Homo sapiens: one gene and its partner. The protein of the gene in region 2 interacts with the protein of the main gene of each other region in a pairwise test. Each region holds a gene or a part of one and is shown on either strand. Other genes may lie near its edges.

Region 1 (5,108 bases), on a different chromosome or scaffold from region 2:
CTGTGCCTGTTTCTGACCTCTCACCTGCAAAATGAATGAATTGACCTCCATCAGCGTTTTTCAACCTTGAAACCCAACTCTTCTCATCACCGTCTTGTCTCCAGTCCATGTCCCCCAGCTCCCGGCCTTGAACTCCTCACAGCACCCCCACTCTCCATTCCTGGCTGCGATGATCCTACTTTTATTCCGTTTTCCATTCGACAGTTTGTATCCAAAAATGATTTTTTTTCAACCGCTTCTTCATCGTCCAAATAGAAAATTGCGGTGTTGAAGGTGCTTTTGCACATTGCACCTATTCCCAAAGCTTTGGAAACTGCAAATTTCTGGAAATCCCGAGGCAGTACCGTCCCTCGGGTCCAGTCTGGTGACTCAGTGGAGCAGGTAGAGACGTGGGAATCTCCCCTTTCTGTTTGGCTGTAGGATTCGTTATTCTCTCCCCACATGGACTTGTTAACTTGCTGCTTCCCATTCCTCATCTCTTCCAAATGGTGTGTCTTGGGTGGGCCTAGATTTCAGTTAGGCAAGGGTTGATTGTGCCAGACACTTGGTAGATTCCTGGGGACAGAGGTGAATCCTTATGACCCAGAGGACGGACACGCTAATGCCCGCCCCCGACAACTTTGCACTTCCTCTTCAGAAAGAATGGAGTTCAAGCTGGGCCGCGGTGGCTCAGGCCTGTAATCCCTTTGGGAGGCCAAGGTGGGTGGATCACAAGGTCAGGAGTTCAAGACCAGCCTGACCAATATGGAGAAACCCTGTCTCCACTAAAAATACAAAAATTAGCCCGGCGTGGTGATGTGCGCCTGTAGTCCCAGCTACTCTGGAGGCTGAGACAGGAGAATTGCTTGAACCCAGGAGGCGGAGTTTGCAGCCAGCCAAGATTGCGCCATTGCACTCCAGTCTGGGTGACAGAGCAAGATGCCCTCAAAAATAATAATAATTAAAAAAAAGAATGGAATTCAGATCAGGTCATCAGTACGGTGACAGAGGGGCCACAAGATATTATGGGGGGAGAATTAGGGACAACCAATGCAAGCTTTAGGACAAGGGGGATTCCAGCAAGTTTCCTCGGAAGTAGTGGCTGGCCCCAGGTCAAACCTGGAAAGATACCACGTGTTAAACCACTCCGGGTGGAAGGGATTGCACAAGCAGATACCTTTGAAGCCCGGCCTGTACAGGGCATCCCAGCTCTCTCATTCTGCCAACCGGCAGTGCGAGGGTCCTTGTTCTTATCTTCCTGATACAGAAACAGGCCCAGGCAGGTGATGACTTCAGAGATGGTTCCTTGAGCTTTCTAGAAACATGCAGGATCCTTAGTAACCTTTAACTGGGGAAACCCAAATCTCCAGGGCCGTTTCTCACCCGCATCACCATTGACAGTTGGGGCTGTGCACTGTAGAATGTGGAATAGTGTCCCTGGCTGTCACCCATGAGATGCCAGTAGTATTCCATCCCCTCCAAGGGGTAACAACTGAAAATGACTCCAGCCATGGCCACGTGTCCCCTGGGGGCAGAATCACCTCCCCCGCCAGGTGAAATGTGATGCTCATTAGTAAAACCTGGTTCCCCTCTAGGGCCCATCATTGCCTTGGTGGGTCCTTGGTGTTTGTGGAGCCCCTGAGGAACTGCCACTAAGAGTGGGAACAGGGGCAGAGACCAGGAACTGAATCCTGCCATCCAGTCAGTTCTTAATCAGGAGGGAGCGGGTCTTGATAAAAAGGAGGAACCGTTAGGAACGGACTGTGGGAGGGTAGGCAACGTGCCCGAGGGTGGACAGCGGGTGCCCTTGTCTTTTCTTTGTCTTGTGACTGACCTGGATTTCTGGAGGAACTGTCCTCGTCTTAGAATGATCTGTTGCTTTTCTTCTGAGATTAGAGGTATTAGATTCTCTCCCAAGAGCTACTTTGGAGGTTGCCCCGGATAAACGTCGCTTTTGTAAGCTGCATTATCTCTTCCATGGGCCCTTTCGCCCGCCCGTTCCCAAGCACATACTGCTGAATTTTTGTTCTTGGTCCATCTTGCTGTCCCCTTCCCTGCTTGGCCCCCTCCTTGACCGTGACTTTGCTGCTTTACCTTGATTGGAGGAGACGCTCTGGGGCCACGGGACTGACGGTCCCTTCTGGGTGCTGCCCCCACACCCCACCCACCAGCCCTTTGTGTGCCCGGCATCCCCAGCCCAGCTGTGCCAGGCTGCCCCTGCTCGGCCGGCCATTCAGACGGCCCCAGGCGGCCTCTCGGCAAAGCAAGACAAGCCCTTCTCTTCTGCCCTCGTGGTCCCTGGAGTGGCAGAACAAAGGGCTCTGTCTCCACACCAGCCCACCGCCGCAGCCCAGAGCCCCGTTCCCTTTCAATTTCTATCGTGGCTGGGAAAGAGCCTCAGAGATTAGGCATGTTTCAGAAATGCAGCTGACGAGTTTGGGTTCTACTCATTTCCTCAGCGAGACTTTCTGAGCCCGAGCCCGATGATAAATAAAGTAGTGATTCAAGGGTTCAGCCCATGGGTTCGTCGGAGTGATGAATAAGATATCCTTGTCTGACTCACTTGTTTAAAACCCATCTCTGCCCTGCTGCACAGGGCTGTATGTGCAAGAGAAGGAGCCCCGCTAGGGGTGTTTCATGACTGTTGTTGCTGGGTGCCTGAGTTTGCTAGGGCTGCTGTAACAGAACCGCACGCTGGGTGGCCAGAACGACAGAAGTATATTGGCTTGCAGTTCTAGAGGCCAGACGTTTAAGATCACATTCAAGATCAAGGTGTTGGCAGGGTTCGTGCCTTCGGAGGGCTGTGAGAATCTGTTCCACGCCTCTCTCTGTTGGCTCATACATAGCCGTCTTCCCCTGGGTCTTCACATCGTCCTCCCTCTGTGCCTGTCTCTGTGTCCAAATTTCCTCTTATGAGGACAGCAGTCATATGGAAGGGGGCCCACCCTAATGACATCATTTTAACTGAATCATCCCCATAAAGACCCTGTCTCTAGGCGAGGCTTGGTGGCACACGCCTGTAATCTCAGCCCTTTGGGAGGCTGAGGCAGGAGGATCACTTGAGGCCAGGAGTTTAAGACCAGCCTGGACAACATAGCAAGATCCCATCTCTACAAAAAAATACTAAAATTAGCTAGACATGATGGTGAATGCCTGTGGTCCCAGCACTTTAAGAAGCTGAGACAGACAGATCGCTTGAGCCTGGGAGTTTGAGGCTACAGTGAGCTATGATCATGGCACTGCATTCCAGCCTGGGTGACAGAACGACACCCCCATCTCTTAAAAAAAAAAAAAATCCCAAATATACTCATACTCTGAAGTTCTGAGGTTTAGGATTTCAATATGTGAATATTTCTTTGTGGAGGGGAGTGGTGGACACAGCTCAGCCCATAATACTGAGAAAAGGACAAATTCAAATTACATTTTTATTTATTTGTTTATTTATTTTGGGGGCGGGGGCAGAGTCTCACTCTGTCACCCAGGCTGGGGTGCAGTGACGCGATCTCAGCTCACTGCAACCTCTGTCTCCCAGGTTCAAGTGATTCTCCTGCCTCAGCCTCCCGAGTAGCTGGGACTACAGGCGTGCGCCACCACGCCCAGCTACTTTTTGTATTTTTAGTAGAGATGGGCTTTCATTGTGTTGACCAGGCTGGTCTTAAACTCCTGACATCAGGTGATCAGCCCGCTCGGACTCCCAAAGTGCTGGGATAACAGATGTGAGCCACCGTGCCCGGCCTCAACTTACATTTTTAGATAATATAGGAACCTGGAGGGAAATGATCGTGTCAATAGAGAATAGGTCCATTTTGTCTCTTCTCACTCCTTTAAATAAACACTTTAAGGGTGAGCAGGTTGGTTGGCCACATCAATTTTGGACGCTCCCTGTTTTCCAGATCTCACACTCATACATTCAGGGGTGACTAAAGAGAGGTGAGAGGCCTGGTGCAGTGGCTTACGCCTGTAATCCCAGCACTTTGGGAGGCCGAGGTGGGAGGATCACCTAAGGTCAGGAGTTTGAGACCAGCCTGGCCAACATGATGAAACCCAGTCTCTACTAAAAATACAAAAATTAGCTGGGTGTAGTGGCACACACCTGTAATCCCAGCTGCTTGGGTGGCTGAGGCAGAAGAATTGCTTGAACCCAGGAGGCAGAGGTTGCAGTGAGCCGTGATCTTGTGCCACTGCACTCCAGCCTGGGCAAGAGAGTAAGATCCCATCTCAAAAAAAAAAAAAAAAAAAAGAGGCGAGGACCCAGCCCAGGGCGGAGTGGGTCCCATGGGATTTTACAGGGGATGTGTTGAGGGCCAGGTCCACAAGGCTGCGTGTGCCTGGTGGGGAAGCAGGATGAAGTTTACAAACAGGGCATGGGGCGGGGGTATATCTCTGTTCTCAGTATTGCCAGGGTCAGGGGCAAGGAATATCCAAAAGTAACTACACTCTTGGACCCAAGTGACCTTAGGACCAACTGCTGTCACAAGTGATTGAACAAAAGAAGTTTCTGGAAGGTCTTAAAATCCTTCAGCAAAAAGGAAGTATTGGCTGGGAGCCAGGCTCAGAGCTGGCCCTTGGGGAGACTGAGGAGAACAGAAATAGCCCTCGCCTCTGTTCAGATGTTCAGCCAGGAGTCACGAGCATGGAAGTCAAATTAACAGCCCAGTGGGGTCTGTGAAGGTGCCGGCAGCAGGCGAGCCTGTGACGGGAGCCTGCCTGGCCTGGGGACTCGCTTATGGGGGAAGTGGGAGACCTGAGAGCTTCCCCAGTCAGCCGTGCCCTGGGTCTTCTGCCTGCGAGGTGGGCACCGCTGCTTCCTCACGAGTGAAGTCACAGCAGCACAGCAGCAGTGGGAGGCTCAAGGCTTTGCTGTGGATCTTCCTGGGCTCACTGCTCAGAGCATCTCCACGAGGAGGCGTCTGCCACCTCCTGCATCCCATTCCAGGGCAGACGAGATCGGGGGCAGGAGGGTGACATTTGAGATTTTGATTCCCAGGGTATGGGTACTCACGTGGGGCTTTAATTTCCTGGTGAATGTGCCATGGGGGGCAAGGGGTAGCTTGCCCACTGCTTGGGAAGACCCCTGGGGTCCTTGTCTTGTCACGTGGAGATGCTGTTTATTGGGTAGGCACAAGAAC
Region 2 (5,525 bases):
TGAGACGCTTGCTTGTTTGGCTACATGAGGCTCAGGAAACAGCTCTAGAGGGCAGGGCACTGGAGGCCACATTATGGAAAGGCAAAGGGATGGTTTAACCTAGACGCAATAGGGAGCACCTAAAAACTATGGAGAGTGACAGTGACCCAACTGGGATACTTAAAAGAATCAATGGGTGGGAATGGGGCAGGAAAAGATAACCAAATCCCACAGCATGGACTAGGATCCAGGAAGGTTGGTTGCTTAATGCCACAGGCAAATAATTCCTTGGACTATGCAGGCTCCTGTTCATTCATTCAACTACCCAGTGCCTACTAAATATCAAGTTTTTTGCTAGACACTAGTGAGCAGCACATTGCTTTTTTTTCTTACATAGCTTGATAATGCGATGGGAACTGGGGGAATAAAGTACTATGAAATTACAAAGGATGAGTACCTAGTCCAGCTTACATCAGTAAAGGCACTCCAGCTAAGTCCTAAAGAACATAAAGGGGACAGGCTAAAATTTAGGAAGAATGATTGTGGCAGAGGCAACTTGGCATATGTAGAGGCCTGAAGGAGAACAAAAAAATTTCATAATGGCTGGTGTGAGAGTGTGAAGGGGGGAAGCATTCAAGATACAACTATAGGCCAGGTGTGGTGGCTCACACCTATATAATCCCAGCACTTTGGGAGGCTGAGGTAGGCAGATCACCTGAGGTCGGGAGCCCAAGACCAGCCTGGCCAACATAGTGAAACCCCGTCTCTACTAAAAATACAAAAATTAGCTGGGCATGGTGGCATGTGCCTGTAATCCCAGCTACTGAGTCAGTAGAATTGCTTGGACCCGAGAGGCGGAGGTTGCAGTAAGCCAAGATTGCACCATTGCACTCCAGCCTGGGTGACAACAGAGACTCCCTGTCAAAAAAAAAAAAAAAAAAGATACAACTATAGAGATAACCAGGAGTAAGAATATGAATGACCACTAAGTAAAATTAAGCCATTGAAGGGTGTTTGCATAAATGAATGACAGGGTCATTTTTGACTGATTTTTTTAAAGAATCAAGACTGCATTTTTCAAAGGATGCTTGGGCTGCAGTGCAGATAATGGATTTGTATGGCAAGAGTAAGGAGTCCGGAGGAACTACTGAAATTAGTTCAGGTAGTGGGTAATGGTAGCTTGAATTAAGGATGTGGAGATAGAGAAATAAATGTATTTAACAAATTGTAAAGATAGGGCTGGGCTTAATGGCTCATGACTATAATCTCAGCACTGTAGGAGGCCGAGGTTGGTGGATCACTTGAGGCCAAGAGTTCGAGACCAGCCCGGCCTATATGGGGAAACCCTGTCCTTACTAAAAATATAAAAATGCATTCAAGTTGGATGTAATGAGTTGGGTGGGGTATTGTGGGTTATGAAGTTGTCATGTCTACTAGCTGGATAAATGGGTCTGGAAGTTCAAGAGAAAGATCTGGGGTAATGTCACATAATGGGGAGTCTTTAGCATAGTTGGCCTTTGAAACCACAGGAATGGATGAAATTGTCCAAGAAGCGTGCATAAAGTGGGAAAGCTCTGAGGAACTCTGAATAAACAGAGGAGGAGAAAACTTTTTTTTTTTTTTTGAGATGGAGTCTCACTCTGTTGCCCAGGTTAAAGTGCAGTAGTGCAGTGGCACGATCTCCAGTCACTGAGTAGCTGGGATTACAGGCGCCCACCATCACGCCTGGCTAATTTTTGTATTTTTAGTAGAGATGGGGTTTCACCATCTTGGCCAGGCTGGTCTTGAACTCCTGACCTCGTGATCCACCCACCTTGACCTCCCAAAGTGCTGGGATTACGGGCGTGAGCCACTGCGCCCGGCCAAGAAAACATTTTTTAAGGTAGTGAAAAAAAATTTAATGAACAGCAGTAAATCCTGCCAAGAAGAGTTACTGAAAAGTATACATTGGATCTAGTAACAAGGAGGACCCTGATGACATAGGTCCTTGCCAGTGCAGTGGTAGGGGTATAAGAGGCTGGAAGGGGCTGTGAGTAAGAGAAGTGGAAACAGTACAGATAACTAAGGTTGTGAAGAACAGGAGATAACAGTTTATTAATATGGCATAGAGGGAGGTGGTGGTGGCAGTTTTTGATGGAGACCTGTTAAAATGCTGATAGGAGAGAGACGGTGGAAAGGAGAGTAGCATAGTTGTTTGAAAGCATGAATCTGCAGTCTGGTTGCCTGGGTTTTGAATCCTAGCTCTATAATTGCTAGGTTATCCTGAGGAAGTCACTTGCCCTCATAGGGTTGTGAGGATTGTTAGATCAAATTATCAAGAATACTTAAAATATGCCAGACACATACTAAGCAGTATATAAAAATTAGTTTGAGAAACAAGCTTCCCTAAGAAGGTAGAATGCTTGTTTCTCAAACTGGTAATTTTTATATACTTTGTTGTGAAGCTCTATGCATCTAGAGCACAGGTGGGAGAATTAGCCTTAGAAAGGATGGTGGTCTCTTCTATTCTGGTAAAGAAGGATGAGTGCAGATGGAGAGTTTATAGGCTGCTTAGCAAGCTAAAGAAACTCATGTGTGATGGCTTCTATTTTCTCTGTGAAGTAGGTGAGGTCATCCCTGAGAAGGGAAAAGGAGAGTTTGGAAGTGGTAGGAATGGGAGCTGATGTTGCAAGCACAGTGAAGGTTCATACGAGGTTAGTGATCATATAGTAACACTGATTTGCATAGTTGTATGATTTGTCTCTAGCAGTGCTCAGCAACCTAGGCGGATTGCTGGATTTAGCCAGAGTTGAGGTTTTGCTAGCTGGTCACAAGCAGGAGGGAAATGAGGACTGAGGACTGCTTTGCAGGTTGTTGGTCTGATAAGAAATTGTGTCCCACACCTTGTCTGGACAGCTACTCTGATATGACTGGTGAGGTGGTGAGGTCAAACTCTAGCCCTGCCTGAGCATGCATATACTATACTGCTCCCACCTGCCCTTGGACTGCCTTCCATATCTAAAATGTATTCATTCTTCAGATTCCAGCTGGCTTGTCTCACTGCCCCTCAGGAACCCCTGCTTTCAACAACTAATCAAGTGTATAGACTTTATGTTCCTCTCTTCTAGCAATGACAGTCTCCCCTGCTATGAGGCATACAAGCCTTCCTCTCTAACCTCCTGATCATACCCCCAATTTGCCCCTCCCACCTCCCTAGAATTAGGCACACAGCTGGTGCTGCTAGGCAATCTAAGCCCAATCCCTGCCACTCCAGGGTGCTCACCATTGTAGGAGAGTGTGAGGCTCTCCAGTGACACCCAGGAGCTCAGCAGGTGGCATAGTGTCAGGGCTGCCTCTGTGGAGAGTGGAACTGTGAATAGCTCCAAGGTGGAGATGCTGCGGAATCTTTGTGAAGCTTCCAGTGCTGGAAGCCCCAGGCAGCTGGGATCTGATCCATCCAAAGCTCCACAAGCCACTTCCCCAATCTCCATCTCTTCGCCATCCTCCTTCTCGCCAGCCACAATAAAAACGAAGTCATACAGGTCTTCAGACTCTGCACCAGGCCCCTGACGGGTGCGAGCACCCTTCTTCCCTGCAGCTCGCTTGAAACGCTTTAGGGGCTTAGGCTGTGGGGCTGAGCTAGCTGGTGCCCGTTTGTATGAGGATGTAGAAGAAGAGGCAGAGGAGGTGGCTGCTGGAGCAGAAGGTGACCGCTTGGTGCCAGGAGCCTCATGGGAGGTGGCTGGGGGGTGCAGCTCCCTCTTAAGGTCTGTTCCGCCTGCTGTCAGGCTCTCCTGTGTGCTCCGGCGTGTTACCCGAGTGGCAGGTGCAGCTCTGGGCATCTGCTTGGCTTCACTCTTACGCCGGCTGGCCATCAGGGCTGCAGCACATCGCTCAGCAGCATCCCGGCGGGGCCGACGTGAGCCCAATAAGAGGGACCCTTCATCTCGGGATGGGGCCCGGCCTCGGGAGGCCTCTCCACAGAGGCGGCAGGGTGGGCCACCAGGCCCTGGTTGCCAGAAGCCAGCACTCATGGTGAGAATAAGGATGAAAAGGGCTGACTCAGGCACAGGCCAGGAGTATAGCGACACTTGACTGACAGCCCCATGGTGAATGAGCTGATGCAACAGCTGCCGAAGTGACTGCTGAGCAGCCACATCAGAGAACAGCAGGTGGCGGAACTTGAGAGTGTGCAGGGAGCTGGCCAGGGTCTCCAGAACCCTGCGGTTGGGCTCAGCCACCAGCTCGGTTGCACCCTGCAGCATGTTACAGATGGTGAGCTGTCGGACATGGCGGGAGCTGTGCAGAAGAGGTGAGAACCGCTGATCACAAAGACGCCTGTCAGAAGACACATCAATGGTCCCACGTAGAACATGGGAAAAAAAGGCCTCCATAAACTTGGCTCGCCAACATGTCACACTCTGAAACGCAGAAAACATGCCAGACAGCCATGATATATCCATGAAACTGTCCAAATTTCCCTCTCTTCCAATAGCACACTATTTACTGAGTCAGGCAACACTACAAATTCATTTAATCTTCACATCTCTGAGGTATGTATTATTATTAGCCCTATTTTACAGGTAAAACCGAGGCACAAAGAGGTGGCCACACAGGTAAGTGGTTGGATTATTTGAACCCTGGAAATCTGGTTCCAGAGACCATGCTTTTATTATAGTGTCTCCACTGAAACACTCACCCCTGTAAGTTCTTCCATGTTTGTTTCTAGAACCTTATCCCAATTTTTTTTTTCTTTTTAAGATAGAGTCTCACTTTGTAGCCTAGGCTGGAGTGCAGTGGTGTGATCTCAGCTCACTGCAACCTCTGCCTCCCAGGTTCAAGTGATTCTCGTGCCTCAGCCTCCAGAGAAGCTGGGATTACAGGCGCCCGCCACCACACCTGGCTAATTTTTGTATGTTTCATCATATTGACCAGGCTGGTCTTGAACTCTAGACCTCAAGTGTTCCGTCCGCCTTGGCCTCCCAAAGTGCTAGGATTACAGGTGTGAGTCACCGCACCTAGCCCCTTATCCCAACTTCATTTTTTTTTAGACGGAGTCTCACTCTGTCGCCCAGGCTGGAGTCCAGTGGCGTGATCTCGGCACACTGCAAGCTCTGCCGCCCGGGTTCACACCATTCACCTGCCTCAGCCTCCCGAGTAGCTGGGACTACAGGCACCCGCCACCACGCCAGGCTAATTTTTTGTATTTTTAGTAGAGATGGGGTTTCACCCTGTTAGCCAGGATGGTCTCGATCTCCTGACCTCATGATCCGCCCGCCTCGGCCTCCCAAAGTGCTGGGATTACAGGCGTGAGCCACCACGCCTGGCCTCCAACTTCTGATTCTTACCACCACCAGCCCCTTATCACCTCACACCTGACCACTAGCTTCCTGATTGCTTTCCCTGTCCCCAAAGTAGTGTTGTAAAACACTAATTACATCATACTGCTTTAAAACCCTAATGTCTCCCTACTGCCCTTCCACCCTCTGCCTGAGAAGCTTTATTTCCCACATCTTGCTTATGAGAATGCTTTGCTCTAGCCAAGCTGGTCACCCCACGGACTTGAA

Evidence for each region. The genes of interacting proteins can lie anywhere in the genome.
Region 1: the proteins of LRRC41 (region 2) and MYO9B interact in a two-hybrid assay, tested with the Homo sapiens proteins (one large-scale study listed by BioGRID and IntAct).

What each region holds. Positions count from the first base shown.
Region 1 is NC_000019.10:17,077,612-17,082,719, forward strand, and holds part of MYO9B (unconventional myosin-IXb), read left to right. Parts: intron 1-5,108. UniProt on the Homo sapiens protein: Myosins are actin-based motor molecules with ATPase activity. Unconventional myosins serve in intracellular movements. Binds actin with high affinity both in the absence and presence of ATP and its mechanochemical activity is inhibited by calcium ions.
Region 2 is NC_000001.11:46,282,121-46,287,645, forward strand, and holds part of LRRC41 (leucine-rich repeat-containing protein 41), read right to left. Parts: intron 4,380-5,525; coding exon 3,242-4,379; intron 1-3,241. UniProt on the Homo sapiens protein: Probable substrate recognition component of an ECS (Elongin BC-CUL2/5-SOCS-box protein) E3 ubiquitin ligase complex which mediates the ubiquitination and subsequent proteasomal degradation of target proteins.